2 separate regions of the Homo sapiens genome follow, and region 2 is linked to region 1. Evidence: fine-mapped expression QTL. Tissue or cell type: whole blood. Region 1 holds a variant in brackets; the other region holds the start of a gene. All regions are shown on one strand. Distances are from middle to middle.

What was found. PIP is the estimated chance that this variant, and not a neighbour inherited with it, causes the effect.
Region 2: it holds the start of GPBAR1, and the variant in region 1 is fine-mapped to the expression of GPBAR1 in whole blood (TOPMed, PIP above 0.99).

The regions. Positions count from the first base shown.
Region 1 is chr2:218,171,131-218,179,232 of GRCh38, reverse strand. No RefSeq gene overlaps it. Among named protein-coding and RNA genes, the nearest start is that of CXCR1, 8.2 kb to the right of the region's middle. RefSeq lists an enhancer at 3,870-4,369. The variant C/T (reference allele first, on the strand shown) is at 3,118.
Region 2 is chr2:218,256,398-218,264,499 of GRCh38, reverse strand. It overlaps GPBAR1 (G protein-coupled bile acid receptor 1), which reads right to left and starts at 3,485. Exons shown (of 2, transcript NM_170699.3): 1 at 3,284-3,485; 2 at 639-1,820. The coding sequence starts at 1,775. The coding sequence ends at 783. AAMP (angio associated migratory cell protein) reads left to right here. Exons shown (of 11, transcript NM_001087.5): 11 at 1-371. RefSeq lists enhancers at 130-309, 2,233-3,038.

The DNA of each region.
Region 1 (8,102 bases):
CACACTTCAATCTCTCCCTTCTCTTAATTTCAATTCCTTTCATTTTCTGGTAGAGAAAAAGGAGACACGTTTTATCCGTGGACCCAAAACTCCAGTGCCGGTCACAGACTGGGAAGGCAGCCTTCCTTTGGTGTTTAATCATTGCAGAGACACCTCTCTGATTATTCACCCACGTTTCAAAGGTGTCAGACCACGCAGGGACACCTGCCTTGGTCCTTCACCCTTAGCAGCAAGTCCCACTTTTCTGGGGGAGGGGCAAGTACCCCAACCCCTTCTCTCCGTGTCTCTACCCCTTCTCTGCTTTTCTGGGGGAGGGGCAAGTACCCCTCAACCCCTTCTCCTTCACCCTTAGCGGCAAGTCCTGCTTTTCTGGAGAAGGGGCAAGTACCCCAACCCCTTCTCTCCATGTCTCTACCCCTTCTCTGATTTTCTGGGGCAGGGGCAAGTACCCCTGAACCCCTTCTCCTTCACCCTTAGCGGCAAGTCCTGCTTTTCTGGAGGAGGGGCAAGTACCCCAACCCCTTCTCTCTGTGTCTCTACCCTTTCTTTGCTCTTCTGGGGCAGGGGCAAGAACCCCTCAACCCCTTCTCCTTCACCGTTAGTGGCAAGTCCCACTTTTCTAGGGGGCAGGAACCCCCAATCCCTTAATTCCGTGCCCCAACCCTTTCTCTGCTTTTCTGGAGGGCAAGAAACCCCCACCCCTTCTCCGTGTCTCTACTCTTTTCTCTGGGCTTGCCTCCTTCACTATGGGCAACCTTCCATTCCTCCTTCTTCTCCCTTAGCTTGTGTTCTTAAGAACTTAAAACCTCTTCAACTCTCACCTGACCTAAAATCTAAGCATCTTATTTTCTTCCGCAATGCCGCTTGACCCCAATACAAACTCGACAGTAGTTCCAAATAGCCAGAAAATGGCACTTTCAATTTTTCCATCCTACAAGATCTAAATAATTCTTGTTGTAAAATAGGCAAACGGTCTGAGGTGCCTGACGTCCAGGCATTCTTTTACACATCAGTCCCTTCCTAGTCTCTGTCCCCAGTGCAACTCGTCCCAAATCTTCCTTCTTTCCCTCCCGCCTGTCCCCTCAGTCCCAACCCCAAGCGTCGCTGAGTCTTTCTAATCTTCCTTTTCTACAGACCCATCTGACCTCTCCCCTCCTCGCCAGGCCAAGCTAGGTCCCAATTCTTCCTCAGCCTCCGCTCCTCCACCCTATAATCTTTTTATCGCCTCCCCTCCTCACACCTGGTCCAGCTTACAGTTTCCTTCCATGACTAGCCCTCCCCCACCTGCCCAGCAATTTACTCTTAAAAAGGTGGCTGGAGCCAAAGGCATAGTCAAGGTTAATGCTCCTTTTTCTTTATCCCAAATCAGAAGCATTTAGGCTCTTTTTCATCAAGTATAAAAACCCAGCCCAGTTCATGGCTTGCTCGGCAGCAACCCTGAGATGCTTTACAGCCCTAGACCATAAAAGGTCAAAAGGCCATCTTATTCTCAATATACATTTTATTACCCAATCTGCTCCTGACATTAAATAAAACTCCAAAAATTGGAATCTGGCCCTCAAACCCCACAACAGGACTTAATTAACCTCACCTTCAAGGTGTACAATAATAAAAAAAAGTTGCAATTCCTTGCCTCCACTGTGAGACAAACCCCAGCCACATCTCCAGCACACAAGAACTTCCAAAAGCCTGAACCGCAGCGGCCAGGCGTTCCTCCAGAACCTCCTCCCCCAGGAGCTTGCTACAAGTGCCAGAAATCTGACCACCAGGCCAAGGAATGCCTGCAGCCCAGGATTCCTCCTAAGCCGTGTCCCATCTGTGCAGGATGCCACTGGAAATCTGACTGTTCAACTCACCTGGCAGCCACTCCCAGAGCCCCTGGAACTCTGGCCCAAGGCTCTCTGACTGACTCCTTCTTGGCTTAGCGGTTGAAGACTGATGCTGCCCTATTGCCTCGGAAGCCCCGTAGACCATCACGGATGCCGAGCTTTAGGTAACTCTCACAGTGGAGGGTAAGTCTGTCCCCTTCTTAATCAATACTCAGGCTACCCACTCCACATTACCTTCTTTTCAAAGGCCTGTTTCCCTTGCCTCCATAACTGTTGTAGGTATTGACAGCCAGGCTTCTAAACCTCTTAAAACTCCCCAACTCTGGTGCCAACTTAGACAATACTCTTTTACACACTCTTTTTTAGTTATCCCCACCTGCCCAGTTCCCTTATTAGGCCAAGATATTTTAACCAAATTATCTGCTTCCCTGACTATTCCTGGACTACAGCCGCATCTCATTGCTGCCCTTCTTCCCAATCCAAAGCTTCCTTTGCATCCTCCTCTTGTTTTCCCCCACCTTAACCCACAAGTATAAGATACCTCTACTCCCCCCTTGGCGACTGATCAGGCACCCCTTACCATCTCATTAAAAACTAATCACCCTTACCCCACTCAATGCCAAGATCCCATCCCACAGCATGGTTTAAACCATGCTTTAACAGGATTAAACAGGATTAAAGCCTGTTATCACTCGCCTGCTACAGCATGGCCTTTTAAAGCCTATGAACCCTCCTTACCATTCCCTCATTTTACCTGTCCTAAAACCAGACAAGCCTTACAAGTTAGTTCAGGATCTGCGCCTTATCAACCAAATTGTTTCGCCTATCTACCCTGTGGTGCCAAACCCATATACTCTCCTATCCTCAATACCTCCCTCTACTACCCATTATTCTGTTCTGGATCTCAAATATGCTTTCTTTACTATTCCTTTACACCCGTCATCCCAGCCTCTCTTTGCTTTCACTTAGACTGACCCTGACACCCATTAGGCTCAGCAAATTACCTGGGCTTCACTGCTGCAAGGCTTCACAGACAGCCCCCATTACTTCAGTCAAGCCCAAATTTCATCCTCATCTGTTACCTATCTCGGCATAATTCTCATAAAAACACACGTGCTCTCTCTGCTGATCGTGTCTGATTAATCTTCCAAACCTCAATCCCTTAGAAAACAACAACTCCTTTCCTTCCTAGGCATGGTTAGTGGGGTCAGAATTCTTACACAAGAGCCAGGACCGCACCCTGTAGCCTTTCTGTCCAAACAACTTGACCTTACTGTTTTAGCCTAGC[C/T]CTCATGTCTGCGTGCAGCGGCTGCCGCTGCTTCAATACTTTTAGAGGCCCTAAAAATCACAAACTGTGCTCAACTCATTCTCTACATTTCTTATAACTTCCAAAATCTATTTTCTTCCTCATACCTGACGCATATACTTTCTGCTCCCCAGCTCCTTCAGCTGTATTCACTCTTTGTTAAGTCCCACAATTACCATTGTTCCTGGCCCGGACTTCAATCTGGCCTCCCACATTATTCCTGATACCACACCTGACCCCCATGACTGTATCTCTCTGATCCACCTGACATTCACCCCATTTCCCCATATTTCCTTCTTTCCTGTTCCTCACCCTGATCACACTTGATTTATTGATGGCAATTCCACCAGGCCTAATTGCCACACACCAGCAAAGGCAGGCTATGCTATAGCACAAGCCACTAGCCCGCCTCTTAGAACCTCTCATTTCCTTTCCATCATGGAAATCTATCCTCAAGGAAATAACTTCTCAGTGTTCCATCTGCTATTCTACTACGCCTCAGGGATTATTCAGGCCCCCTCCCTTCCCTACACATCAAGCTTGAAGATTTGCCCCCACCCAGGACTGGCAAATTAGCTTTACTCAACATGCCCCGAGTCAGATAACTAAAATACCTCTTAGTCTAAGTAGACACTTTCACTAGATAAGTAGAGGCCTTTCCTACAGGGTCTGAGAAGGCCACACAGTCATTTCTTCCCTTCTGTCAGACATAATTCCTCAGTTTAGCCTTCCCACCTCTATACAGTCTGATAACAGACCAGCCTTTATTAGTCAAATCAGCCAAGCAGTTTTTCAGGCTCTTAGTATTCAGTGAAACCTTTATATCCCTTACGGTCCTCTGTCTTCAAGAAAAGTAGAACGGACTAAAGGTCTTTTAAAAACACACCTCACCAAGCTCAGCCACCAACTTAAAAAGGACTGGACAATACTTTTACCACTTTCCCTTCTCAGAAGTCAGGCCTGTCCTCAGAATGCTACAAGGTACAGCCCATTTAAGCTCCTGTATAGAAGCTCCTTTTTATTAGGCCCCAGTCTCATTCCAGACACCAGACCAACTTAGACTGTGCCCCAAAAAAACTTGTCAACCATACTATCTTCTGTCTACTCATACTCCTATCCACCATTCTCAACTACTCATACATGCCCTGCTCTTGTTTACACTGCCAGTTTACACTGTTTCTCCAAGCCATCACAGCTGATATCTCCTCATGCTATCCCCAAACTGCCACTCTTAACTCTTGAAGTAAATAAATAATCTTTGCTGGCAGGACTATGCTGAATCTCCTTAGGCAGTCTTTAATCAGATGTCCTAGGTCCTCCCAATTCTTAGACCTTTTATACCTGTTTTTCTCCTTCTCTTATTCCATCTAGTTTTTCAATTCATACAAAACCGTATCCAGGCCACCACCAATAATTCTAAATGACAAATGTTTCTTCTAACAACCCCACAATATCAACCGTTACCACAAAATCTTCCTTCAGCTTAATCTCTCCCACTCTAGGTTCCCACGCCGCCCCTAATCCCGCTTGAAGCAGCCCTGAGAAACATCGCCCACTCTCTCTCCATACAACCCCCCAAACATTTTCGCCACCCCAAGACTTTAACACTATTTTGTTTTATTTTCCTTATTAATATAAGAAGGCAGGAATGTCAGGCCTCTGAGCCCAAGCCAAGCCATCTTATCCCCTGTGACTTGCATGTATACATCCAGATGGCCCGAAGTAACTGAAGATCCACAAAAGAAGTAAAAATAGCCTTAACTGATGACATTCCACCATTGTGATTTGTTTCTGCCCCACCCTAACTGATCAATGTAATTTGTAATCTCCCCCACCCTTAAGATGGTTCTTTGTAATTCTCCCCACCCTTGAGAATGTACTTTGTGAGATCCACCCCTGCCCGCAAAACATTGCTCTTAACTTCACAGCCTATCCCAAAACCTATAAGAACTAATGATAATCCACCACCCTTTGCTGACTCTCTTTTCGGACTCAGCCCACCTGCACCCAGGTGAAATAAACAGCTTTATTGCTCACACAAAACCTGTTTGTTGGTCTCTTCACACGGACGGGCATGAAAGCGAGGACTACGGTGGTCTTGAGGCTGGGGAGCGGGTAGCTGAGACCTCATCCCTCAAGGCAACAGAGGTGGGACAGCATGTGAACTGAGGCTCCCAGTATCTGTGCATGACCCAGTGGACTTCCCATGTTTTTTTCCTAACTTGTAATTAAAAAAAAAAACTTTTTTTTTTGAGACGAAGTCTTGCTCTGTCGCCCAAGCTGGAGGGCAGTGGCACGATCTCAGCTCACTGCAACCTCTGCCTCCCAGGTTCAAGCAATTCTCCTGCCTCAGCCTCCCGCATAGCTGGGATGACAGGTGCGCGCCACCATGCCCAGCTAGTTTTTGTATTTTTAGTAGAGACAGGGTTTCACTATGTTGGCCAGGCTGGTCTTGAACTTCTGACCTCGTGATCCACCTGCCTCGGCCTTCCAAAGTGCTGGGATTACAGGCCTGAGCCATCGTGCCCGGCACCCCCAAAAATTTTTTTTTTGTCAAGATGGGGATCTTGCTATGTTGCCCAGGCTGATTTCAAACTCCTGAGCTCAAGTGATCCTCTAGTCTTGACCTCCCAAAGTGCTGGGATTACAGCCATGAGTCACTGTGCCTGGCTGACTTCACTTATAAAACACACATTCCAAGATAAAATTATTAAGAATTATAAGACAGCGACTGTAGAATATCAGACGCTAAGGTGGGGCTTTTCTGAGCCCAGGTCCCAGGCACCTGCAGAGGTCACACACCCCTCCTTGTGTCACACACTTTGCTGGGCACCAGGGATGCAAACTAGAATCCTTTACAGTTCTGGCCTTCAGGAGGGGCCAGGAGAGAAGGCAGGGGAGCTTTATGAATCATGACCAGGTGCCAGGCTTTGTGCCTGAGTCCTGCCTACTCATAGTCCAGTGTGAGACAAAGACTCCTAGAAATAAGCATAAAACAGTCTGAGAAAACAGCAGCAGTGGAGAACTAAGTGGTGTGGGAGCCCAGAGGCAAAAAAGCCTGCAGGTTTCAGGGCTGAGGAGGGAGGAGCCCAGTGGGACGGAAGCTCAGAGTCCTGGGCGTCTGCTCACAAACAGAGCTGTGCAGGCAAATTGGAGTGAGGGGTTGGGAATGACTGCTACAGTGGTATTTATTTACTGATTTTTTTTATGAAAATGGCTAAATATGTATTTTTTTTCTTTTATCTTTTGAGACCGAGTCTCACTCTGCTGCCCAGGCTGGAGTGCAATGGTGCAATCTCAGCTCACCTCTGCCTCCCAGGCTCAAGCGATTCTCCTGCCTCAGCCTCCCAAGTAGCTGGGAGTACAGGCACACGCCACCATGCCCAGCTAATTTTTGTAATTTTAGTGGAGACAGGGTTTCACCATGTTGACCATGCTGGTCTCGAACTCCTGATCTCAAGCAATCCACCCACCTCAGCCTCCTGAAGTGTTGAGATTACAGGCGTGAACCACTGCGCCTGGTGTGTATTTTTTTTTTTTCTGATTGCAAAAGTAATGCTTATTTTAAAGATTGAGCAACATCAAAAGACATAAGCAAGGAAGCAAATATCTACAATCCCAAATATCTACAATCCCCAAAGATAACCCCTGCTAACATTTGACTACGTTTCCCGTGTTTTCCCTGTGCATACACATATATGTATTTGATACAAAATGTAATACTGTACATTCTACTTTTTAATCTTTATTGCCACTTAGCATCCTATTACAAACACTTTTCTATAGCATTAATTATAGCTGTACATTATTTTAAATAGAAGCATGGTATTCCATTTTATAAATCCAGTATAATTTGTATAAACATTTTTTGAAGAACATTGAGATTATTGCTGTTTTATTATTATAAACAACCCTGTGATAAACTTACTTTCCTTCCTTCCTCCTTTCTTTCCTTCCTTCCTTCCTTCTTTCCTTTCTTCCTTCCCTCCCTCTCTCCTCTTCCTCCCTTCCTCCCTTCCCTCTTTTAGTGGAATTTCAGCATCAAAGGTTCTGCATTTTTTGGTGTGTTCGATACACAGCTCCCCCACGGGACCATGGGGGTTGTGTACAAAATAAATAAATAAATAAATAAATAAATAAATAAATAAATAAATAAAGTGATCATAAGAGCCTGGGCAACATAGCAAGACCCTCATCTCTACAAAAGTGTTTTAATTATCTGGTTGTGGTGGCACACACCTATAGTCCCAGCTACATGGGAGGCTGAGGCAAGAGGATCGCTTGAGCCCAGGAGTTCAAGGCTGCAGTGAGCTATGATCACTCCACTGCACTCCAGCCTGGGAGACAGAGTGATGTCCTGTCCTGAAAGAAAGAAAAATAAAGGAAAGTGGGCATCTGAGCACTCATTTGAAGGAAATCCTCCGGAATCGATTCAGAAATCCTCATGAAGTACCCAGAATTCCCTGCTTTGGAGCCAGCCAGACCAGGATGAACTAAAAGTGACTGAACACTTATTATCTGCCAACCACTTTACATATATTAACTAATTGATCCTGATGCCAATCCTATAAACTAGGTCCTACTTTTATTATCCTTTTGCAGGTGAGAAAACTGAGGCACAGAGTGAGCATCTAAGCTGCCCAAGGGCACACATCTAGCCAGGGACAGAGTTGGGATTTGTACCAGCTGGTTTGGAGCTCAAGCCTTCCATCATCACAACAGCTTGGAGAGGTAAGTATTATTATCCCCGTTTTTATAGATAAGGATATTTTGATAAATGTTAAGAGATGCCACAATTTGCCAGTTGACTGGCATTCAGGCTGCACCTGTCACGGCTTTCTTCGTGGCACTGGGTGTTCTGCATAGAATAGAAAAATGCTTTCCTATCACCACCCAAGATCACAAACTAGTAAAGAAGAGCCAGTATTTCCATCCTGGTCTGTCTGACTTCAAAGCAAGGAATTCTG
Region 2 (8,102 bases), 85 kb before region 1:
AGGGGACGAAGGGACCCCTGCCCCTGTCTGCCAGCAGAGGCAGTAGGGCACAGAGGGAAGAGGAGGGTGGGGCCCTGGATGACTTTCCAGCCTCTTCAACTGACTTGCTCCCCTCTCCTTTTCTTCTCTTTAGAGACCCAGCCCAGGGCCCTCCCACCCTTGTCCAGACCTGGTGGGCCCTTCAGAGGGAGGGGTGGACCTGTTTCTCTTTCACTTTCATTTGCTGGTGTGAGCCATGGGGTGTGTATTTGTATGTGGGGAGTAGGTGTTTGAGGTTCCCGTTCTTTCCCTTCCCAAGTCTCTGGGGGTGGAAAGGAGGAAGAGATACTAGTTAAAGATTTTAAAAATGTAAATAAAATATACTTCCCAGAGACAGAGTCTGTGTGGATTTTGTGATGGCTGGACCCTAGGAGGAGCTAGCGAGGGCCCCGTCAGGGCAAGGCTGTCCCGCAGAATCGGCTGGATGTTGAGATGTGCCAGCTCCCCATCTCCAGGGGTGGTCTGTGCGCACGACACTTCTTGCCTGCCTGGAGTCGGACTCTGCCTTAATCCACGCGTATGTCTGTAGGTTCTTTCTATTGTTGGTGTGTTGAGCCATTTCCTCCTGCCTCGCCCTGAGATATGGAATGAGATAATCATAAACGGCCAGAGGAGCTTTATTCAGTCAGTGCGGGGTCAAACAGAGGCAGGGTCTCTGATCCAGAGAAGTGGGGCCCGGTAGAGACAGGCTGGATGGCTGAGCTGGACGGATGCTCTGGTAGGAGTCAGCAGAGGCCCTTCCTTTAGTTCAAGTCCAGGTCGACACTGCTTTGGCTGCTTGGGTGGTAGGCAATGCTGGGGCCGGGACTGTCCCGGGAGGCTCTTCCCCACAGCCCCTGCAGGCACCTTTGGGCGGCTGCCCTCCAGGGGGCTGTGTAGCGCTGATCGCCCAGCCCCATGGCTACGGGCACTGCCGCTGCACTGGCACTTCCTAGGGAGAGGAGGGACAACAGTGTCCCAGGCCCCAGTGGCGGGCGCTGCTCATAGGCCAGGACTGAGAGGAGCAGTGTGGCCACGTAGGGCCCCCAGCACAGCCCGAAGAGCAGCATGGCTCCAGCCTGTGCCCTTGCCTGCCTCCAGGTAAGGGCCCGGGCCAGGGCGGAGGGCTCATCGCGGCACACTGCCCGCTCCAGCCGGCAGATGTCCTGCAGCTGGCGGTGGGCAGTGGCCAGCACGCGGACAGAGAGGAAGGCAGCAGCACCCACGGCGGGCAGCAGGAGCCCATAGACTTCGAGGTACAGGTAGGGGGCTGGGAAGATAGCCTGGGAGCTGCAGTTGGCACCAGGGGTCCAGTGGTTCCACCCCAGAGCGGGCAGACTGGCAAAGAGCAGGGGACCAGCCCAGGTGAGGAGCAGGGCCAGCCGAATGCTCCCAGGGGGCTGGAGTGGCCTCAGGACTGCCATGTAGCGCTCCCCGTGCACCAGCAAGAGGTTGGCAAGCAGGGAGAGGAAGGAGAAGTTGGGAGCCAAGTAGACGAGGAGGCAGGACCAGTAACCCCGGCGACTCTGGTTCCACAGCCCTGGCAATGTGGGCAATGCCAGACCCGTGAGCAGCCCAGCCAGCAGTAGGCTCAGGAAGAAGCAGCCAGCAGGTGGGCTGCGCAGGCGGCGGTCCCAGGCGATGCCCAGGGCTAGGAGCAGGTTCGCGGTGATGATGAGGCTTGCCAGGGCCAGGGAGAGCCCCAAAGCCCCCTTGGGAATGGGGCTGGGCACCTCGCCAGTGCTGTTGGGCGTCATCTTGGTCCTGGGGACAGGGGAGTCCTGGAGCGGCAGCCGGCATGCCTGCAGGATGGGGTGGCCAGAGTTAGGATGGGGCTGCAGGTCGTGTCCTCCTGGCAGGGCAGCATGTTAATCCAGGGGCGCAGACCCGCAGGCTGTGGGCTGTATCATGTTCGCTGATACACAGAATTTTTCAATTAATTGCCAATTAAACATTTATATAAAAAACTATCTTTGGTTTCTATTGAAAATTCAGGTCTGGCAACACATATGTCCTGTGTGGTAGCAACCAGCCGGAGCTCACTGCTGGCTGCCCTTCGGACAGTCCCCACCCAGCCAGCTTTATCCATTTCTGGTATCTGCCTTTTCTGGGCAGCTGTGTTGAGGTCTCTTGTTTAGACTGAAAGGCGGGCCCATCCAGCCCCAAAGCATTTTGTGTATCCCTGCCTCCACCGGGGAGGCCTCTAAATGAGAGAATGGACCAGGGCTGGCTGGTGTGTAGTGGTCTTCCAGCCAGCCATTAGGTGACAGGCTCCAGCGGGCCAGGTCTCGGGCACCCTGCACCCTTCCCCCCATCTGTCCTTGTAGCCATCACAGCTCAGTGAGCAGCCTCCGGGTAGGACTTCCAGCCCATAAACTTGACTCGTCTTTGCTCCACACTAGCAACAGGGTCCTTCCTGGGAGCTGGAGGGAGGAGAGAAGCAGCTGGAGGGCACGTGTGGCAGTGAACGTGGAGATGCCAGCAGCAAGGAGAGGGACTCCCCCACACCCCCAGGCCTGAGGCTGAGCCCAGAGGAGAGGGAAGAGGAGTCTGGGCAGAGTCTGGCTTCTCTGTGGCTCTCATCTGTCCCTGTCCTTCCCGTCATTCCCTGGTCTCAGTCCTCCAGTGTCATGGCTCTGCTGCCACATCCTGGGGACAGGGGGAGGGGTCCTGGGTCCTGTGGGAACTCCTGCTTCTGTCAACAGGGGAGCAGCTGCTGTTGCTAGGATCCAAGTCAATAAGGAAAGGATTCATACCTCTCCCCTCCTCCAGGACAGGGGATCAGGGCCCCATGGCTGCCCTGAGCTGAGAGGAAGGAAGATGCTCCCCTTCCTTCCCAGGTTCCCCCAGCACCCTGAGCCTGGGCCTCCAAGGCCTTATGCCCCCTTTCCCCTCCCCTAAGCATGTTTTCTCTTTCTCAATCTCTTCCAGTGCCCTCCACCCAGGATGTCTTTTCCTCTCTAGAGGCCTTGCAGTTTCTGTTCCCTTTCCCAGGGCATCATCAACTCTCTTAAGTCCCGTGAGACTCAGGGTCCATTACCCCAAACCTGGCCTGAGCTGGAGCTCCCAGCCCTAATCGGAATGATTCCCCCCAACCCACCTCCACTAGAACAGCGACAAAGGCAGGGAGCAGCCCCCAGGGGTGATTTCCCAGCAGGGTGCAGGCTGTACCACCTGCACACCCCCGAGGGTCTGGTGGCTTGGGCTGGGTGTAGTAGCCTCTCCAGGATCTGGGGTTTGGGGGTTTGGGGGAGTAGCTACTCACATGGCTGTTGGGAGCAGGTATTGCCTGCCCAGCCTGGGCCTTCCTGAGTGTCAGGGAGTTGCTGCAGCCAGCCCTGCAGCGGTTTGGACCATGTCTGGTGTCCTGGCTGAAGAGCACAAGTGGACCAAGTGCATGGTGTCTCCACCCAGTGGGGACAGCGGGGCCAGGCTCTCCTACCCAGGCTCTGCCCGTCTGGGTTCTCAGAGGGATAGAGAAATGAGGCTGGCAGGACTCAGCCCTGGCCCCGCCTCTGGGAGGGTGGGACCTGACATATTCCAAACTGCAGCAACTGGGAGGCCTGCCTCCCCCTCCCACCCAGTTCCCCTCTCCCCCTGCCACCTAGGTGGCAGTTTCCCTACTCCAGCTCGGAGTAATCTGAGAAATGCATTCCAGTTAATGAATAATAATGATTGACTTACCCCTCCCGACTTCCCGCCTCAGCTGATGCATTTACATTTAAGCCCCTGGACTGGCCAGCCAGCTGACAGCACACCAGGCTCCCTCCACACTTCCGTGTGTGATGGTGGCAGTGGCAGGTGTTTGGGGCCTGAGGATCTTCACTCCCCCATCCCATCACCTGATGGGCCTTTCAGTTTCTAAGGCCAGACTTGCCTTCCTGAATCTGGGGTCATTCCACACTTTTCTCAACTGCTTTCTGAGTCAAGTTCTGAACTATGAGGGACAAATGGCTCTGGGGATGTGACCATGGGTAAGGTACTACTGGGCCTCGGTTTTTGCCTGTGTTAAAATGGGAACAAGAAAAACCACCTCTAATTAAGGTCGTGGTGGGGAATATCACAGGATAACACATATGGCGGCATATACCCCAGTGCATGGCCCTTGATGGGTGGGGGTTTGCCCCAACAAATGGCTCCCTCTCTTTCCTCCCCCATGATGAAGAGGCATGAGCTGGCGCTGGAATCAGAGCTGTCTGGATCCTTTTTTAAAAAAGCCAGTGAACTTGGGCAAATGACTAAAGTTCCCTTGCCTTAGTTTCCTCATCTGTCAAATGGGGCCCATAGTTGTACTCACCTATCGTGAGACTAAATGAAGTCCCGTGTGATGAGGACTCAGATCAACACTTGGCCCTTCAGCACTCCGCGACAGGCAGCGATCGCTGGGAACATTATTAGGATTTCTGCCTTTCTCTGCACCTGGCCCCTCTAAGACAGATCTGCTGAGAGGGGCGCATGGGGAGCTTGGGAAAAGCAAGAGGGGAGTGACACTCTTGCTGCACAGGGAAGCTGAGGAAACCAGATACATTGAGAGGGAAGGGCAAGTTCAAGGCTGGGAAGCCAGAAGTGGTGCTTTGATTTCCACCTTGTATCAAGTGCGGCTTTGGAGTGAGGGGGAGGAGAGAAGCCCAGCCACACTCCCTTAAGGCCTGAAATGGGAGGGAACAGGCGGAAATTGCAGCAGGAAAGCTGGGACTGGGGGTGAGACATTAGGAAACACTTGCTGGCTGAAGAGCGCAAGTAAATGGAGCAAAGGGACTCTGGTGCTCTCCGGGAGAGCTGGGCCTGAAGGGCTGGAAGCCCGTGGAGTGTGGCTGTGCCAGCTCTGCACAGCCAGTCAGGGATCCTGGAGATCAGGGACTTCTGTTGGGACAAAAAGTGGGAAGAGGAAAGCATCCAGCCTCAAGTCCATCCTCGAGGGAGCTGGTGGGTCGGAAGGACGCAGGGTTCCAGGGCCGGTCCTCAGAACCACGGGATCTGGTCGGGCAGAAGTCACAGGCTCTGGGAGAGTTCAGCCTGGGGCCTGGACAGAAGTGGGTGTGGGACCCTTCTGATATGTGACTTCCAGGAATAAACAGACCTCCTGTTCCCAGCCCCAGCCTGCTCCCTGTGGGATCCAGGATGTCTGTTTCTTCTCTGCTGCTCTGTCTAAACACTGTGTGTGGGATGTGTGTGAAGGGGGACAGATTAGGTAGTGGCAGCCAGGGAGCCTGGGCTGTCTCCTGCTCAGCCTCATTTCTCCCTTCCTAGATCATCTAGTTCCTGTCTGTTCCATCAAGCCCTGGGGCTGACTCACCCCCTAGCTTCTCCCTTCAGCCACGGAGGGCTCTGGTGCAAGCCGTCTTCAGACGCTCCATCCAGCTGACTGTGCCCGGACCCCATTCTCCTTTCCTCAGGCAGAGCCTGAATGGGGGTGACCAATTCAGACTCTGGCATGGAATCCTCCTGTGCCTCCTTTGTCCGCTTCCATTCTCTTAGCTATCTGAATTTCTCTCTGTTGACCCACAATGTCTGGGACTGGGTGAGTGTCATGCTGGCTGCGGGTACCAGCTCTGGACCAATGGAGGCAGCAGGGACGGGGTTTGCTGGACCCTGGTTGGCCTCCCTGAGCCGCTGTTCAACACTTCACACTCAATGCCTGTAATCCTAGCACTTTAAGAGGCTGAGGCCTGGGCAACGTGGTGAGACTCCGTCTCTACAAAAAATAAAGATTAGCTGGGCACAGTGGTACATGTTGTGTGGTTCCAGCTACTCAGGAGGCTGAGGTGTGAAGATTGCTCGAGTCCAGGAGGTTGAGGCTGCCGTGAGCCTTCATGGCGCCACTGCACTGCAGCCTGGGCGACAGAGTGAGACCCTGCCTCAAAATAAAGATGATTAAAAAAAATCAGAGCCAGGCGCGGTGGTTCATCCTTGTAATCCCAGCACTTTGGGAGGCCGAGGTGGACAGATCACCTGAAGTCAGGAGTTTGAGAGCAGTCTGGCCAACATGGTGAAACCCCATCTCTACTAAAAATACAAAAATTAGCCAGGTGTGGTGGTGAGCACCTGTAATCCTAGCTGCTCAGGAGGCTGAGGCAGGAGAATCGCTTGAATCCAGGAGGGGGAGGTTGCAGTGAGCCGAGATTGCGCCACTGCACAACAGAGCAAGTCTCCAATAATAAAAAAAAAAAATCGCCTAACCTTTTAATTCGCTCATCTGTTAAAAAAAAAAAAAAAAAAGGTTAGGGTGGGCTGGGCACAGTGGCTCACGCCTGTTTTCCCAGCACTTTGGGAGGCCAAGGTGGGTGGATCACCTGTCAGGAGTTCGAGACCAGCCTGGCCAATATGGAAAAACCCTGCCTCTACTAAAAATACAAAATTAGCTGGGTGTGGCGGTGCAGGCCTGTGGTCCCAGGTACTCCGGAGGCTGAGGCAGGAGAATTGCTTGAACCCGGGAAGCGGAGGTTGCAGTGAGCCAAGATCGCACCACTGCACTCCAGCCTGGGCGAAGAGTGAGACTCTGTCTCAAAACCAACCAACCAACCAACCAACCAACCAACCAACCAAAAACCAAAAAGAACCAACACCCCCCGCCCACTGAAATGGCAGTGCTTTTAGCAACCCCCAGTAGGGGGCAGCACTGCTTGAACTCAAAATCGCCACCAGAGTAGACCCAGGTTTCGGTCGAGCACTCATCAGTACTACTCCAAATGAGGGTAACCTAACGGCAACCAACTCCAAGTATCAGCTCCCCTCAAGGAGGCTGAGGCAGCAGCTAGGGCTATTTCCTTTTCTTGATTTCAATTCCCCCTCCAAGTCCACCCTTCCACTTCCTGTTAGAGTCTTAGCGTCTTTCCTGCCAAGCTCCTTATCCTTAGCTTGCAGTTTGCCCCAGGTTCCACTTTTTCCAGACATGGAGATTCTTACCTGCCTGGCCTCGGCAGTAAGGGCCATTTAAGCAGGGGAAAATACCAAAATACCAACTACCTTGGGGAAAGCCTGGGAAACCCCAAGCACCGAATAAGGGTTGGCTTCTGTGGGACTTTGCTGGGGCAACAGCCTGTCACTTCTGATCCCCTTGAGTGTATAAAGGGAACTAAGATTCATTGACATTATAATTACAGGCATCATAATGCTTATGATGTAACAGACATTTATTCTCTTTTCCTTTTACAAATCCTCAGGTAGGTGGCATTATGTCCAATTTAAATGAGGCTACCAGGGCTCAGATTAAGAAATTTGCTGTCACATAGCTATTAGATGGCGGCACCTGGATTCAAACTGTTCCTCTACAGCCCATATCCAAGGACGCCTACACTTACCAGGTGTGAACCCTTGGGGCACTGGCTTCCTGAGACTAGGAAGAAACAACTAGATCCCTTTTTTCCAGCCCACACCCTCAGTGTGCTTGACCCTCATCCTGAGACATTCCTCCTGCGGTCCTAAGGCCTCGACTGGTCACGATGGGCTGCTTCATCTGTGACGAGGGTCTTTGAGGCTAGATCCATACTAACGCCAAGTGTGTCCTTGTTAAGAGAAGAGTCAATCTGGATACGGGTTTACACCAGTATGGATTTTTCTTTTTTCTGGGACAGGGTCTCACTCTGTTGCCCAGGCTGGAGTGGAGTGGCACGACACAGCTCATTGCAGCCTTGACCTTCAGGGCTCAAGCAATCCTCCTGCCTCAGCCTCTTGAGTAGCTGGGACCACAGGCATGCACCACCACATCCAGCCGATTTTTATTTTTTGTAGAGGCAGGGTCTTGCCATGTTGTCCAGGCTGCACTACACATTTATTTATTTTTGAGACAGAGTTTCGCTCTTGTTGTCCAGGCTGGAGTGCAATGGCGTATCTTGGCTCACTGCAACCTCCGCCTCCTGGGTTCAAGTGATTCTCCTGCCTCCGCCTCCCGAGTAGCTGGGATTACAGGCACCCGCCACCATGCCCAGCTAATTTTTTTTTAGTAGAGATGGGGTTTCACCATGTTGGCCAGGCTGGTCTCAAACTCCTGACCTCAGGTGATCCACCCGCATTGGCCTCCCAAAGTGCTGGGATTACAGGCGTGAGCCACCGTGCCCAGCCAGATTTATTTTTATAGAGATGGA